Linked DNA regions of Homo sapiens: region 2 is linked to region 1. The links come from fine-mapping of genetic effects on gene expression. Tissue or cell type: whole blood. Region 1 holds a variant in brackets; the other region holds the start of a gene. All regions are shown on one strand. Distances are between the middles of the regions.

Region 1 (8,101 bases):
CTGTATCTTCACATTGATTATACTAGTACCTAAAATTAGTCCATATTCCAGCCAGGCGTGGTGGCTCACACCTGTAATCCCAGCACTTTGGGAGGCTGAGGCAGGTGGATCACCTGAAGTCAGGAGTTTGACACCAGCCTGACCAACATGGAGAAACCCCATCTCTACTAAAAATACAAAAATTAGCCGGGCATGGTGGCACACGCCTGTAATCTCAGCTACTAGGGAGGCTGAGGCAGGAGAATCATTTGAACCCAGTGGGTGGAGGTTGCAGTGAGCCAAGATTGCGCCACTTCACTCCAGTCTGGGCAAAAGAGCAAAACTCCATCCCAAAAAATATATAAAATAAAATAAAATAGGTCCATATTCCAATGTCCCCTTGTTCGGATGTCCCAATAATGTCCTTTATAGCGTTTTTCCCCCCAATGCAGGAACTAATCAAGGATTTGGCATTGACTTTTGTCACGTGTCTTGACTCCTTTAATCTAGAAAAGTTTCCTGGCTTTGTCTTCCGTGACACTGACTTTTGTTAAGACAAGGTCTCGCTCTGTCACCCAGGCTGGAGTACAGTGCCTCACTGCAACCTCTGCCTCCCGGGTTCAAGCAATTCTCCTGCCTTAGCCTCCCGAGTAGCTGGGATTACAGGCACCGGCCACCATGCCGGGCTAATGACACTGACGTTTTTGAAGTATCCATGTAGGTTGCTTGCAGGCAGCTCCCTGGTTTGTTTTTTGTTTGTTTGTTTTACAACTATGGGTCTCACTTTCTGAGTTGGGTGGCATGAGGTTGCCTCCCCAGCCATCGCCCTGGCTGCTGCGCCTGGAATTGAAATCTTGCCCTGAAGTGCCACCTAGTGGTCTTCTATGTGAAGGATTTTCTTTTTCCTCCCAGTTCTTATCCTGGAAAGCTCAGGCATGCTCCACGGCACTGAAAGGAAGATGGGTGGCTCACGCCTGTAATCCCAGCACTTTGGGAGGCCAAGGTGGGCGGATCGCTTGAGGCCGGGAGTTCAAGACCAGCCTAGGCAACATAGGGTAACCGTGCCTCTACAAAAAAAAAAAAAAAAAAAATAGCCAGGTGTGGTGCACGCCTGTAGTCCCAGCTACTCAGGCGGCTGAGGGGAAGGATGGCCTGAGCCCAGGAGGTCAAGGCTTCAGTGAGCTGTGATTGTGCCCCTACACTCCAGCCTGGGTGACAGAGTGAGACCCTGTCTCAAAAACAAACAAACAAACAGAAACGTGGCTGGGCATGGTGGCTCATGTCTGTAATCCCAGCACTTTGGGAGGCCAAGGTGGGAGGATCACTTGAAGTCAGGAGTTCGAGACCAGCCTGGCCAACATAGTGAAACCCCATCTCTACTAAAAATACAAAAATTAGCTAGGCGTGGTGGCAGGTGCCTGTAATCCCAGCTACTCAGGAAGATGAGGTGTGAGAATCATTTGAACCTGGAAGGTGGAGGTTGCAGTAAGCCGAGATCATGCCACTGCACTCCAGCCTAGGTGACAGAGTGAGATTACGCCTCAAAAAAAAAAACAAACAAAAAAAACACAAAAACCTGAACCTCGTGTAAGTACTCCACCCAGCAAGCAGGGATGGTCTCTGCAGTGTCCATGAGGTTGGGAGGGAGCGTGTGGCCATGACTCTTGCCTCAGCCCCCAGCCATGACCCTGACCCTGACCCCCTCCACTCCCAGGACTACATCCCCGTGGAGGGTGAGCTGCTGTTCCAGCCTGGGGAGGCCTGGAAAGAGCTGCAGGTGAAGCTCCTGGAGCTGCAAGAAGTTGACTCCCTCCTGCGGGGCCGCCAGGTCCGCCGTTTCCACGTCCAGCTCAGCAACCCTAAGTTTGGGGCCCACCTGGGCCAGCCCCACTCCACCACCATCATCATCAGGGACCCAGGTAGGCAGAGCCTGGGGGTCGGCTTAAGCAGGAGGAGAGGGAAGACTGGGGGGTCTCTCAACTAGGTCTGTCAGACTTAGCAAATCCAAACACAGGACGCCCAGGTAAATCTGAATTTCAGGTAAACAACATACACGTTGGTAGGATAAGTATGTCCCATGCAATATTTGGAACATACTTATCCTTTTTTTTGCAAAATGGGCTGGGTATACTGGCTCACACCTGTAATCCCAGCATTTTGGGAGGCCAAGGTGGGAGGATCACTTGAGCCCAGGAGTTCTAGACCAGCCTGGGCAACATAGTGAGACCTCGTCTCTACAAAAAATAAACAAATTAGCTTGGCATAGTGGTGTGCACCTGCAGTCCCAGCTATTCCGGAGACTGAGGTGGGAGGATCACTTGAGCCCAGGGGGTCTGGGCCGCAGCAAGCTGTGATCGCACCACTGCACAGCACCTGGGCCATGGAATGAGATCCTGTCCCCCAAGAAAAAATAATCTTGTTGTTTATCTGAAATTCAAATGTAACTAGGCATCCTGCATTTTATCTGGCAACCCTACAGCTAGAGAGGCTGTTGTCACCACACAATAGGAATTCTCCCATCAGACCCTGGCCCTTTGGCTTCAGCCTCAATTCCAACTAACATGCAGATGCTTGTGGAAGGAAGGAGTGGGCCAGTTAGTTCCTATCAGCCCTCAGCCTCCCAACTGGGAGAAAGCCTGCCAGGAAGATGGGAGAGGAGGGAGATACTCAGGGTACAGTGTGGAGATGGGGTGGGGAGCAAATGTTCTCATGTGGAATGTTCCCTGAGCTGCCAAGGGAGAAAGGGGCAGACCAACTCCCTCCCGCTTCTGTTCCTCCAGAGACCCTCCTGGGTCCTCCGCCAAGCTTGGCAGGATGCTCTATGTGGCAGCAATGGGGCACCACCAGGTCTCCAGAGACGCGGGTGGGCAGGTCTGAGTTGAATGCGCTGGGTAGAGCGCCCTGGGTGTTGAAGTGGGTCTCTGGCGCCCCCTGGTGGTGAAGGGGGATCTGAGTGGTTGCCCGGCCCCAACCTGACCCGTTAGATGAACTGGACCGGAGCTTCACGAGTCAGATGTTGTCATCACAGCCACCCCCTCACGGCGACCTGGGCGCCCCGCAGAACCCCAATGCTAAGGCCGCTGGGTCCAGGAAGATCCATTTCAACTGGCTGCCCCCTTCTGGCAAGCCAATGGGGTACAGGGTAAGGCGGGGGGCTGAGGGTCACGACAGGTGGATGGGCGGTCTGGCACCAGCACTCACAGAAGAGGTGGGCCGTCCAAGGCCAGGGCCCCCTGAGAGAGAGCAGACAGTGGAACCTAGCACAGGTGGTCAGAGGGAAACCCGGTCTGTGCTGGGAAAGAGGGAAGACCCATTCCTGAGTTTATCAGACATTTGCCCTCCTTCCTAGAATGGGGCCCCCTCCCACCCCCGCATGGGAGATACCCCCACCTGCTCTGCCCTAGTCCTGACGTGTGCACATGGCAGATCTCTCAGCCCC[T/C]CCCTCGGGCCTCATCTGTGCAAAGAGGACAGTAAGGGCAGAGGTCAGAGGAGGGACAGGCAGCTTGGGTGCCTGCTGCTCCCTGCTGACCAGGACCCCTGTCCCTGGGGGTAGGTAAAGTACTGGATTCAGGGTGACTCCGAATCCGAAGCCCACCTGCTCGACAGCAAGGTGCCCTCAGTGGAGCTCACCAACCTGTACCCGTATTGCGACTATGAGATGAAGGTGTGCGCCTACGGGGCTCAGGGCGAGGGACCCTACAGCTCCCTGGTGTCCTGCCGCACCCACCAGGAAGGTGAGGCCTCGCCATGTCTGTCCATTTGTCCCCTGGCTGCCCTGATGCCAGCATGCCCAGACCTCCCTCCCTCTGCCACTGACAGCACTCTTCCTGTATTCCCCGCTCCCTAGTGCCCAGCGAGCCAGGGCGTCTGGCCTTCAATGTCGTCTCCTCCACGGTGACCCAGCTGAGCTGGGCTGAGCCGGCTGAGACCAACGGTGAGATCACAGCCTACGAGGTCTGCTATGGCCTGGTCAACGATGACAACCGTAAGAACCAGATCCTTCTTTCCTGCCCACAGGGAGAACAGCCATGGAAGGGGAGGGGACAAAGCTGGAGGGAGCTCTTGGTCACTCCCTGGACCTGCTGTGCAGGGCACTCGAGGCCTTCATCCTGGTCAGCGGATAAGCCTGAGGCATCTTTAGGGTTTTGGCCAGATTTGGGCTGGGTTGCATTCTAAGACCAAACCCAGAAGGTTGCAGGGTGGGTGGTTACCTATGTGGAGTGAGGTCACAGGCCCAGGGGTACCCCTCCCCATGCAGGTAACCAGGGAGCTCACACGTGCATGGTTTTCTTAGGGTGAGAGGAAAGTTACCGGATTTAGCAAACAGAAATACAGGAGGTTCTGAATTTCAGATAGCACTTTAAAAGATTATTTTGTACATTGAGAGGCCGAGGCAGGTGGACTGCTTGAGGTCAGGAGTTCAAGACCAGCCTGGCTAACATGGTGAAACCGTTTCTACTAAAAATTAGACAGGCATGGTGGCTCATGCCTGTAGTCCCAGCTAGTCAGGAGGCTGAGGCAGGAGAATCACTTGAACCCAGAAGGCGCAGGTTGCAGTGAACCGAGATCGTGTTACCGCACTCCAGACAGGGTGACAGAGCCAGACTCCGTCTAAAAATAAATAAATAAAAAGGATTATTTTATACATTATTTTATCTAGCAGCCCGAGATCAGAGGTGCCTAGCAGAACAGTTATTTCTCCAGTCCTGGAAGGGAGGCAGGGTGGGCAACCCCTATGCGTGCCCTTGCCTTGTGTGGAGGCACCGTGGATATATGGGTAGAGGTGACATCGAGGCCAACTTGAGTCCAGCCCTGGCTCTGCCACTTACTCAGCAGAGTCCCTTGGAGGACTGGTGACATATGTCCACGCCAGTCATGCTGACGCTCAGGGCTCCGCAGGCGGCAATTCAGCAGTGGCTGGCTTTGCCTTGCTTCCCCAGCCCCTGGGTGCCATCCAGGGGATGCACGGCCGTCCTGCTGTGTCAGGGGTGGTGTTGGGACCAGGCTGGGACCTGGGTGACCCTCTGAAGCACTCTCTCTGCCCCAGGACCTATTGGGCCCATGAAGAAAGTGCTGGTTGACAACCCTAAGAACCGGATGCTGCTTATTGAGAACCTTCGGGAGTCCCAGCCCTACCGCTACACGGTGAAGGCGCGCAACGGGGCCGGCTGGGGGCCTGAGCGGGAGGCCATCATCAACCTGGCCACCCAGCCCAAGAGGCCCATGTCCAGTGAGTGGTGGGCAGGGAGGTGAGGGGCAGACCGGGCAGGGGGGCAGGGGGCAGCAGCCAGGGCCCTGGCTCACTCCCCTGCCCTGCAGTCCCCATCATCCCTGACATCCCTATCGTGGACGCCCAGAGCGGGGAGGACTACGACAGCTTCCTTATGTACAGCGATGACGTTCTACGCTCTCCATCGGGCAGCCAGAGGCCCAGCGTCTCCGATGACACTGGTGAGTGGAGACCTGGGACCCACAAGAGGACAGTGGGGGTCTTGGGTACAGAGTGAGTCCACTGGGTCCAGAGAGGGCAAAGGGGCCAGCAACTAGAGGACATGGAGGTTAAGGCAGCCTTGGACAAATGCAATGGAGTGCACATCTGTGCATGGGGCACAGGAACCAGTGCCTGGGGGACAGACACACACAGCCTTGTGCAAGCGCACATGAGTTCATGCCCACGGGACCACGAAGAAACACAGCTTCACAAGTTGAAGGTTCACCAGCTGTGCCATGCACACAGGACACTCAGGCCACCCCCCAGGGGCAGGCCTGGCCCAGGAGCCCTGGGCAGCCACCAGGCGGCCACCTGGCAGGGGTAGGGGAGCCAAGGAGACAAGAACACCCCCAACAGCTCTGTCCTTCCTCCTTGATTCCCAGCACAAAGTGCTGCGGAGCCCTTAGCTGGGCCTCCTGAGTGCTCAGTGTCAGCTGTGGCTCCACCTGTGGGACATCAGATGAATCACTCATCCTTTCCATGCCTCACTTTTCTGCTCTGTATAATGGGATACCAATCACACAGTACCATGAGTGGAAAAACCTCTGGGGCACGTATATCTTTTGTATTTTCTTCTGTCCCTGCCGATGCCTCAAGCTGCCCCCGGTGAACACATACTGGCCCCCACGGGGCTCAGCTTGGGCTTAAGGAGCCATTTTGAGGGGTTCAGGTGGAGCGCAGCTGGTGTGACTCTGGAACCCCAGCTCAGCTGCTTCTAACACTACCTGCGAAGCGCTCGGTGGCTTGCGGAACGGTCCCTGGGAGGCGGGCAGGGGCAAGATTCCTCTCTCCATTGTACAAACGGGAAACTGAGTCTCGGAGAGGTTAAGTAAAGCAAGGGAGACCTCACAGCTGGTGACAGAGCCCAGACTTCCCCCAGGTTTCTGGCGGGTCCGGGGGTCTCTCCTCCCCAGCTGTGCCGAGGCTGCACTCGCTCATCTGGAAAGGCTTCAGCCGCGCAAGGGTTTCACCTGCCGCGGCCTTCCCGCTCCGGCCGTGCGCATCTACCCCCGCCCCCAACACACACCCCGGGATCCCGGGAGCTGGAGACGGGCTCCCCTCGCAGAGCCTACGGCCTTCCCCCGCCTGGCCCTGCTCGGCCCGGCGCCCCCCGGCGGTGCCAACGCGGCCCTTCGTTGTTCCCAAGGCTGCGGCTGGAAGTTCGAGCCCCTGCTGGGGGAGGAGCTGGACCTGCGGCGCGTCACGTGGCGGCTGCCCCCGGAGCTCATCCCGCGCCTGTCGGCCAGCAGCGGGCGCTCCTCCGACGCCGAGGCGCCCCACGGGCCCCCGGACGACGGCGGCGCGGGCGGGAAGGGCGGCAGCCTGCCCCGCAGTGCGACACCCGGGCCCCCCGGAGGTGACAGGCTCACCCGCCGCCCCCCGATCCGCGCCCACCCAGCCTCACTCGCGCCTGAGGGCCTGGGGTGGGCGTCTGCGCTGCCTCGGGGGCCCCAGTTTCAGCCAGGCCCGGGCCTTGGCGGCTGGGAGCACAGCTGCTCAGAGGCAGGGCCCAGTGCCAGGGGACGCGTGAGGCAGGCGCTTGGGCCCTTATGGTGCCTGCCTGGCCAGGGGGTGCAAATTCAGAAGTCTGCCCGGGAAGCGGACCCTGGCACCCAAGTAGACCCCTCAGGGGCCTCAAAGGACAGGAGGGAAGGCTTGGGGATCTCCCCAGGGCAGAGCTGACTGCAGACGCAGCAAACCCCCGCCACTGCCAGGGTCAGCAGTGCTCACACCGATAGAGTGGCCGGCCAGAGGATATGGGCTGTGGAAGCCTGGGTGGCCCTTGGGCTCCTGCAGGGACAGAGGGCCTCTGTCCCTAGTGGTTTGAGGGAAACTGGTTGTATTTAAGCAAAAGCCACCCAGAGGGTGGGTGACCAGGAATGTGCAGGGCCCAGCCTGCCCCACGGGGCCCGGGTCTGGGGCAGGCCTGACCAAGGGACCCTGCTCTCCCCCTGCAGAGCACCTGGTGAATGGCCGGATGGACTTTGCCTTCCCGGGCAGCACCAACTCCCTGCACAGGATGACCACGACCAGTGCTGCTGCCTATGGCACCCACCTGAGCCCACACGTGCCCCACCGCGTGCTAAGCACATCCTCCACCCTCACACGGGACTACAACTCACTGACCCGCTCAGAACACTCACACTCGACCACACTGCCCAGGGACTACTCCACCCTCACCTCCGTCTCCTCCCACGGTGAGTGACCTCAGCCAACCCTGCCTCTCCCACTAACCCTTCCTCTCTTCCAGCTCCTGGAGCCTCGGGCTTCTGTCTGCTGTCCCCACCGCCCATTCTCCAACATACACACACGCATGCACACATGCACGCACACACGTGCACACGCATGCACACATGTACACAGACATGCATGCGCACACGTACACACATGCATGCACACTCCCTGCTCCTCTCACTCTTGTTTTGTCCTGCCCTAGGCCTCCCTCCCATCTGGGAACACGGGAGGAGCAGGCTTCCGCTGTCCTGGGCCCTGGGGTCCCGGAGTCGGGCTCAGATGAAAGGGTTCCCCCCTTCCAGGGGCCCACGAGACTCTATAATCCTGGCTGGGAGGCCAGCAGCGCCCTCCTGGGGCCCAGGTAGTACAGGGGTGGCCATCCTGTCTCCACAGCTG
Region 2 (8,101 bases), 30 kb before region 1:
GGGGTGAACCTGGGAGGCGGAGCTTGCAGTGAGCTGAGATCGTGCCACTGCACTACAGCTTGGGCGACAGAGCGAGACTCTGTCTCAAAAAAAAAAAAAAAGTAATGTAGGGCAGGGGATGGGATGGTGAGGGTTCTATTTTAGAATGACAAAGAGACAAAACAATCAAATGCAATAGGTGGCATGGATTGGACTCAAATTCAAAAGGAAACCTTTATAATAGACATTTTGGAGTCAACTAAGAAAATTTGAATATGGACTGAATCACACATCATTTAATGGAGACATTATTTCCTTAGGTGTGAAAAGGGGCCGGGCTCAGTGGCTCACACCTGTAATCCCAGCATTTTGGGAGGCCAAGGCGGGCAGATCACCTGAGGTCAGGAGTTCAAGACCAGCCTGGCCAACACGGCGAAACCCCGTCTCTACAAAAAATACAAAAATTTAGCTGGGCGTGGTGGCATGCACCTGTAGTCCCAGCTACTCGGGAGGCTGAGGTAGAATTGCTTGAACCCAGAAGACAGAGGCTGCAGTGAGCCGAGATTGCACCATTGTACTCCAGCCTGGGCAACAAGAGCAAAATTCTGTCTCAAAAAAATAAAGGGGGGTATTGAGGTTACGTGGGGGACTGTTCTTGAGAGATACATGCTGGAGTGTTTAGGATGAAATGGCAGGATAAGTGCAACTTCAAATTTAAAAATATACAAATGTTTAACAAATATATAAATAAATACAGCAAAATATTATTCTTGAGTCTAGTTGGTAAAAATACGGGTGATTTTTGTATTCTTTCAACTTTTTGGGGCATGGTGGCTCACGCCTGCAATCCTTGCACTTTGGGAGGCTGAAACGGGAGGATTGCTTGAGCCCAGGAGTTCAAGACCAACCTGAGCAACATGGTGAAACTCTGTCTCTACAAAATAAAAATTAAAAACTTATCCAGGATTTGTGGCACACACCTGTAGTCTCAGCTACTCAGGAAGCTGAGGTGGGAGGATCACTGGAGCCCAGGAGGTTGAGGCTGCAGGGAGCCTCGATCGTGGCACTGCCCTCCAGCCTAGGCAGCAGAGTAAGACCCTGTCTCAAAAAAGAGGGGGCCTATTGAGCAACCCCTTGGCTCTGAGGAGAAAACAAACCCCAGGATTCTGCACCGGAGAGGCCTCTGCCCCCAGTCTGAACATGTGGTTGATGCGGGCTCTCCAGACAGGTCACTGGACTCTTTCCACCACACATCCCCTGTCTATTTATTCTTTAACTTGTTCTTTTATAAAACAGGTGCCAATCTACCAATAAGTAATGTACATTCTCAAGTATAAGAATAGGGGCTCAGGGCTGGGCGCAATGACTCACGCCTGTAATCCCAACACTTTGGGAGGACAAGGCAGACGGATCACCTGAAGTCAGGAGTTCAAGACCAGCCTGGTCAACATGGTGAAACCCCATGTCTACTAAAAATACAAAAATTAGCTGGGCATGGTGGTGCGTGCCTGTAATCCCAGCTACTCAGGAGGCTGAGGCAGGAGAATCGCTTGAACCCAGGAGGCAGAGTTGCAGTGAGCCGAGATTGCACCACTGCACTCCAGCCTGGACGACAGAGTGAGACTCCATCTCAAAAGAAAAAAAAAAAAAAAGAATAGGGTCTCAGCTAGCACCTACCTCGAGAATACTCAGCCTACTTTGGAGACCCCTGGTTTGAACTGGGAGTGAAGGAAGCAGGCCGTAGTTCTCGTTCATCTTGGTATCCCCAGCATTTGGCATAGGAGCTCATTAACTGCTCATAAAATGAATAAATAATTGAACTAATGAATGAACAAGTCTGACCTACTGGAGGCCACATGAGGAGTGCAGGGGAGTGGAGGAGCAACAATCCAAGGTCCTTGGGCTCGGTCCTGTTCCAGGGGCCTCACCTCTCTTGCAGAGCCTAGGAAGCCCCCTATGAGCCAACCTCACTCTGGCCCTAAGGCTGCAGAGATAGTGGGGTTTATTTTAGTTTTATAAAATTCACATGCAGGCTGGGAGCAGTGGCTCACGCCTGTAATCCCAGCACTTTGGGAGGCTGAGGTGGGTGGATCACTTGACATCAAGAATTTGAAACCAGCGTGGCCAACATGGTGAAACCCCAACTCTGCTAATAATACAAAATTAGCTAGGCGTGGTGGTGTGCACCTGTGATCCCAGCTACTCGGGAGGCTGAGGCAGGAGAATCGCTTGAACCCAGGAGGCAGGGGTTGCAGTGAGCCAGGATCGCACCACTGCACTCTAGCCTGGGCAATAGAGTAAGACTCCATCTCAATGACAACAACAAAAAAAATCACATGCAATATTTAAACTTCTGGGGCCAGTAACCTATTTGGGAATCCAGTGTAAGCTAAGGCTCCCCTCCCAGCAAACCCACATTCTGAAATCAGATACTCCTCAAAGTTTGCACAAGATCTGAGATGGTTCAGGGACTCCCCACTGCCAAGTCCACATGCGGGCTCCAGGTAATGAACCCCAGGACTCCGAGAAGCCAAGGAAGCTCATGGCTTATCTTACTTAGTGAGACCTCCCTGGGTTGACATCTCGCCTCTCAGCTGCTACAGGGCTCCAGGCCCCCTAGTCATTTTCAGAAGGGTTTGCAATGAAGAGAGGAAGGGGCTGCTGAGCCCAGTGGCCTGGGGCATCGCCAGCTCTGGACCTGGGTCTTCTCTAGGAAGAAGCCTCAGCCCCCACCCACAGTGGGGTGTATATGACCCCCTAGTTCTCTAATGGGTGCTGCTGGCAGACCCAGGCCCCTCAGGCAAGCTGTTTTTGGCCGTTCTCTGAGCTCCTGCTCCATGTTTCTGTTTTTTGGGGTGGATAGGTACCTGCTGGAGTGACTCAGGTCCACAGGGCACTTGTGCTGGCCTGACACACACAGATCTGAGTGCTTCAACCAAACTGGGACTCCTTCCACATTGTTCCCAAATCCAGGAGCAAGCCTCTCTGAACACTTTCTCTGTGCAGAACAGCTCTCAGATGACCAGGAAAGGTGGCGACTCACACATTTGCAACCAGCACCCCTGCAATCACTCTGAGAGGTAGCAGTGGAGGAATCTGTTTACAGATGACAGCATGGAGGCTCAGGGAGGCTGTGTGACCATCCCATTCACTCAACCACCCTTTTATTGAGCACCTGCTATGCACCAGGCATGGTGCTAGGTGCTAGAGAGTAGCTGCCCTTGGAGTCACAGTCCAACAGTGTGGCGAGATTCCTAAACATCATTTCAAACCAATGTGGCAAATGCCATGTAAAAGCCATGGCCCAAGGGTTATGGGGACACATAAACCAACTTGGGGTGTGGAGAGGTCAAGGAAGGCTCTCTAGCACGTGGTTGGTGCAACGTCTTCAAGGACAAGAAGGATAAACTGGGCTCAATGTCATGGGAAGGGACCAGCCTGTTGAAAAAGCACGGTGGCTTGAAACCGCATGGTTTGGACAGTGCTGTGCCAGCAGTCTGGTGTTGTTTGGCATTGCTGGCCAGTAAGCCTAGAGAAAAATGGAGCCCTGGCTGGGCATGGTGGTTCACGCCTATAATCCCAGCACTTTGGAAGGCCAAGACGGGTGGATCACCTGAGGTCAGGAGTTCGAGACCAGCCTGGCCAACATGATGTACTAAAAATACAAAAATTAGCCGGGCGTGGTGGCGGGCACCTGTAATCCCAGCTACTCGGGAAACAGGCAGGAGAAGCGCTTGAACCCGGGAGGCAGAGGTTGCAGTGAGCCAAGATTGCACCACTGCACTCCAGCCTCGGCGACAGAGTGAGACTCCATCTAAAAAAAAAAAGAGAGAGAAAACAAAAAGAAAAAGAAAAATGAAGCCCTTCTCTGACCTGAACACCCGTGGTAAGCAGTGGCAATGGAGAGACTGCTCTCAGAGGACTGACGGGAGGGAGGGGCCAGCTCTGTAACCAGCTTGTTAAGAACAACTGTAACAAGGCATCGAGTGCCAATCCATGCCAGGTCGGCACTGACCTCTCCAGGGTATCACTGTTCACACTGTAAGGAGATTTAAGTAGCTTGTTGAAGGGTGCACCGAGGACCCGACCCTTCCTCGGCTCTCCCTCTGGATACAACGTGAGGTTAGGGGTTGGAGGCTGAGAGGACCCCGTGAACTGCAGAGCAGAGCTGGGACGGGGAGTCAGGCCTCCCGACCGGGCCGGGGGCACTCCCTGGGCCCATGCCTCGCGCTGGCACGGAGAGCGGGGAGGGGGGTACGCGGCTGACGACCGTCGGGGCAGCAGCAGCAGCACAGCCCGGCGTTGGCTAGCGGCCCAGAGTCGGGGCAGGGAGGGTTCCCGTGCGGACGGGGGCTAAGAGGCCGCCTCCAGCCCGGGGCAGTCCGCGCACCCGAGCCTGGAGCCCGGAGCCTGGAGGGGTGGGGAGGCCCCGCGCCCAGGGCCGGACCGGAGGGAGAGGGAGAGCGGTGGCTCCTCCCCCGGCCCCCGCCGCTAGCCGATCGGGGCGCTGGGCGGGCGCCGCGGGAGCCGCAGCCCTTTCCGGGGGGCGGACCCGGCTCCGGCGGCGGCACCCAGCTCCTGCCCCGACAGGTGCGCGCCGCGCGAAGGAATGCAGCCGGTCTGACTCACCAGCGCCTCCTTCCTACCTGCGCGCCCGCCCCATAAAGCGCTGCCCGCCTCGTCCCCACCCCCCCAACCCCCGCGCCCGCCCTCGGACAGTCCCTGCTCGCCCGCGCGCTGCAGCCCCATCTCCTAGCGGCAGCCCAGGCGCGGAGGGAGCGAGTCCGCCCCGAGGTAGGTCCAGGACGGGCGCACAGCAGCAGCCGAGGCTGGCCGGGAGAGGGTGAGTGCCCGCCCCAGCTGGGCAGCCGCGCAGGGGAGCTGGTCGGGCAGGGCCGGTGGCTTTTGTCTCCCCTTCCCCTCCCTGAAGGCTGACAGGCCCCGGTCCCTCTGTCCACGCTGCGCAGGACAGGTGCCCAGCCTCCCCGGGGTGCGCCGGGGGCAGCTGGCAGCCAAGGGGCAGGGCAGCTAGAGAAGGGTGGTGCCCATCAGACCTCCAGGCCAGAGGAGCGCCTTGGGTGCGCCTGCGGGAGAAGTGGGCAGAGGCCAGTGGCTGGTAGCCCTCTGGGGCTGGGCCCCTCCAGGGTTTGCAAAGAAGGTGGAGTAGACACCAGCCTGAGTGCTGGGCCCAGCCCATCATGGCGCATCTAATGATAAACCAACATTCCTGACTTTTATGTGAAATTTCGTTCTTTCTAACATTGGCTCCTACTTTTAAAAGCCACCCTGAGAGGCAGACGCCATCCCGGCTCCAGGCAGGGCTTGCTCTATGCGGTGCCACAGTCCATCTGGGGCTGGGGAGTCCCTGATTTTCCTTTTCTCTTGGCCAAGCACAGGCCTGCCTTCCTCCCAAAGTCAGCCCCAGGCGCCTTCCTTCAGGAAGCTCTACAGGCCTCACCCACCAGCCCCAGGGCTGTGCCCAACACTGCCACCTCCTGCAGCATCCGCCCTCTTTCCCATGGCTCAGCCTCTGGGGTGGCCCTCTGGCTGGGACTGGGGCTCTGGGGCTCCTGGTGACTCCCAGGAGCAGGGACAGGGCTTCTCCTCTGCCCCCATGGCCTTGCCACACCCTGAGGACAAGGACCAGGCACAGGTGGCATGGTTGTTGCTGTCCGAAACAGAGCTGGCAGTGAAGGCTTGGAGTCTCCATCCTGGGGGCTGAGGGAAGGACAGCAGGAGGGACAGGAGGGGAGGTATGTCTGTCTACTCGACCCTGATTTCTCAGGGAGACAGAACAGCCAAGGGCCTGGGGTCCCCAGACTTCTGGCCAGCTGCCTCTCTGGGGCGAGGAAGGGCCTGGGTCCCTGAGGGGAGGAGATGTGACAGCGGGAGAGGATAGTGGACAGGAGCAGGTGTGCCCAGAGGGGTCCCCAGGGGTTGGGATGGGGGCCAGGGGAGCTCTGAGCCTGTGGGTGGGTGGGCATGGCCTGTGTGTGTGTGTGTGTGTGTGTGTGTGTGTGTGTCCCTGTGGGGGGGAAACTGCCTGTGCTGCAGTGTGATGGCATTCAGGGTGGCAGTCACACACTCCAGGGACCTGCTGGTACATAAAGTCGGGGCAGCCTGGTGGGGTCCGGGCCGCCTGGAGAGTAGGTGTCCTGAGCGCTGGGCCCAGCCCATCGTGATACATCTAATGATAAACACAAATTCCTAACTTTTATGGGAAATCTCGTTGTTTCTAACATTGGCTCCTACTTTTAAAACTTTCTAAACAAATGAAGCCAAACACTCTTGGGTGCCTCGCCAACCCTCTAACTGCCATTTTGTAGCTTCTGCGTGGAGGCTGCCATGGAGGTTAAAGGCAGGGCCTGCAGAGCAGGGCCCTGTCCTGGCCCTCCCAGTGCTGTCCGCGGGATGGGGAAGTTCCACAGCCTTCTGTGCCTGGTCTCTCATCTGGGAAACGGGCAGAATGAAATCATCTCCCGCCGGGCTCCTGTGCTGAGCAATCTCCTCCGTGAAGCCCTGGGCTCATATGGCAGTCACAGTGTGGGAATCAGCACTGCCTGAGGGGCTGTGGCCAGGGACAGTGGGAGGAAGAGCTGGGCTCAGCTCTCCAGGCCTGTACCTGCCTGTGTAATGATGCCTGGGAGGCCTGAGCCTGCAGCCTGTATTGTGTAGCATGTGGGTGTGGCGGCTACACCCCGAGGCTGCAAGGAAGTCATTTCCCTCTAGGAACCCTGCTGTCCCCACCCTTTCCCTGCTGGCTCAGGGCTGCCTCCCAGTCCCTGTGCCACAACAGGTCTGACCTGCATGTGTTGGCGCTGCTGTGGCCTCCTCCAGGCTGCACGCCTTAGAAGCAGGCTACGCCTTCCTGCCCTTGGCCTGAGAAGGGCTTCTCCAGCACCTCGGGGACCCCAGCCCCCAGACCCTGGGGTGGCCACTGCCCCAGAAGCCGGGCTGAGACAGGATTCAATGGGGAGGGCCCGTGGGCAGGGCAGAGGCTTGGGCCCCTGGGAGACCTGGCCCTAGAGAAAGAGGCGCGGTGCTCACCTTTGCCCCGGCCTTGCAGGCCTGGATGGCTCTGCCGCCAGCCTCTTTTCTTGTCCAGGCTTCAGGCTGAGCATCTCTTAGAGGGCCTCAGGGATGTCCAGTCCTGCCCTGAAGGCCGCTGAGGACTTAGGATGGTTTAATACTGAACCCACAGCCGCTGGGGACGCCTTGAGGGGAGCCACAGTGTGTGTGCATGTCTCACTCTGGGCTAACTTGTGAAAGGGTGAACAGCTCAGGGGCCCAGAAAACTTAACTCTGGGGCAGGCAGAGGTACAGGGGAGGGCAGATGATTCAGACCCCACCCTGATGGGCCGGGCAGTCACTGCAGAACCCAACCCGGTGCAGTAAGCCACTGCGGGCAGCTGTGGCCCAGCCCCAGGCCCCAGATATTGGGAGGGGCCCCTCTCCTCCCGGCTGTGCCACCCTCACCAAAGGGTAAGTGGGCCAGGACAGAAGGAGCAGGAGGCAGAGCTGCGGCCCCCTCTCAGGGAGGCACCCTCATTGGATGACCCTGTCATGGCCAAGCCTGACCCAGGCTCACTGGGAGCTAAAAGGCAAAGAAGAATAAACCCACATCTGCCCTCAGGGAGCCCAGTGCTGAGAGGCCTGGCACTGGGACAAACTCGCAAACCAGAGTCCTTGAGGGCTGGAGGGGGCCTCCCGGGGCAGGGCATAGGCCACTGCAGGGATGGCACGGAACAGGGCAGCGGAAAAGGCAGGAGTCCGAGGCCCAGGGCCCTGCCTCTGGCGGCTGGGCGCCCTTGGTCACATTGTTGGTGCTCAGAGCCTCAGTTCCCACAGCTGTGCAGCGAGAGGAAGCTGACGGCACCGACCATGGCTGTGGAGGCCTCATGTGTCAATTGTTGCTGTTCTGCAGGAGGAAGAGGATGGCAGGGCCACGCCCCAGCCCATGGGCCAGGCTGCTCCTGGCAGCCTTGATCAGCGTCAGCCTCTCTGGGACCTTGGGTGAGTCCACGTTGCCCTGCAGCCCCCTCCTGGCAGGATCATCCCTTGGGCAGGCATTGCCCTTGCACGGGGATCTCACGGTGTCTCACCTAAACACGCTTGGCCATTC

The links. PIP is the estimated chance that this variant, and not a neighbour inherited with it, causes the effect.
Region 2: it holds the start of ITGB4, and the variant in region 1 is fine-mapped to the expression of ITGB4 in whole blood (TOPMed, PIP above 0.99).

Annotation. Positions count from the first base shown.
Region 1 is chr17:75,747,148-75,755,248 of GRCh38, forward strand. It overlaps ITGB4 (integrin subunit beta 4), which reads left to right. Exons shown (of 40, transcript NM_000213.5): 27 at 1,694-1,898; 28 at 2,964-3,121; 29 at 3,533-3,713; 30 at 3,827-3,964; 31 at 5,027-5,209; 32 at 5,299-5,430; 33 at 6,618-6,827; 34 at 7,429-7,668. It also overlaps a transcript of GALK1 not described here. Among named protein-coding and RNA genes, the nearest start is that of GALK1, 14 kb to the right of the region's middle. RefSeq lists a silencer at 6,423-7,032 and an enhancer at 6,620-7,393. The variant T/C (reference allele first, on the strand shown) is at 3,419.
Region 2 is chr17:75,716,791-75,724,891 of GRCh38, forward strand. It overlaps ITGB4 (integrin subunit beta 4), which reads left to right and starts at 4,669. Exons shown (of 40, transcript NM_000213.5): 1 at 4,669-4,822; 2 at 7,904-7,992. The coding sequence starts at 7,914. RefSeq lists silencers at 4,232-4,291, 4,302-4,691 and enhancers at 4,412-4,950, 4,951-5,489, 6,404-6,955.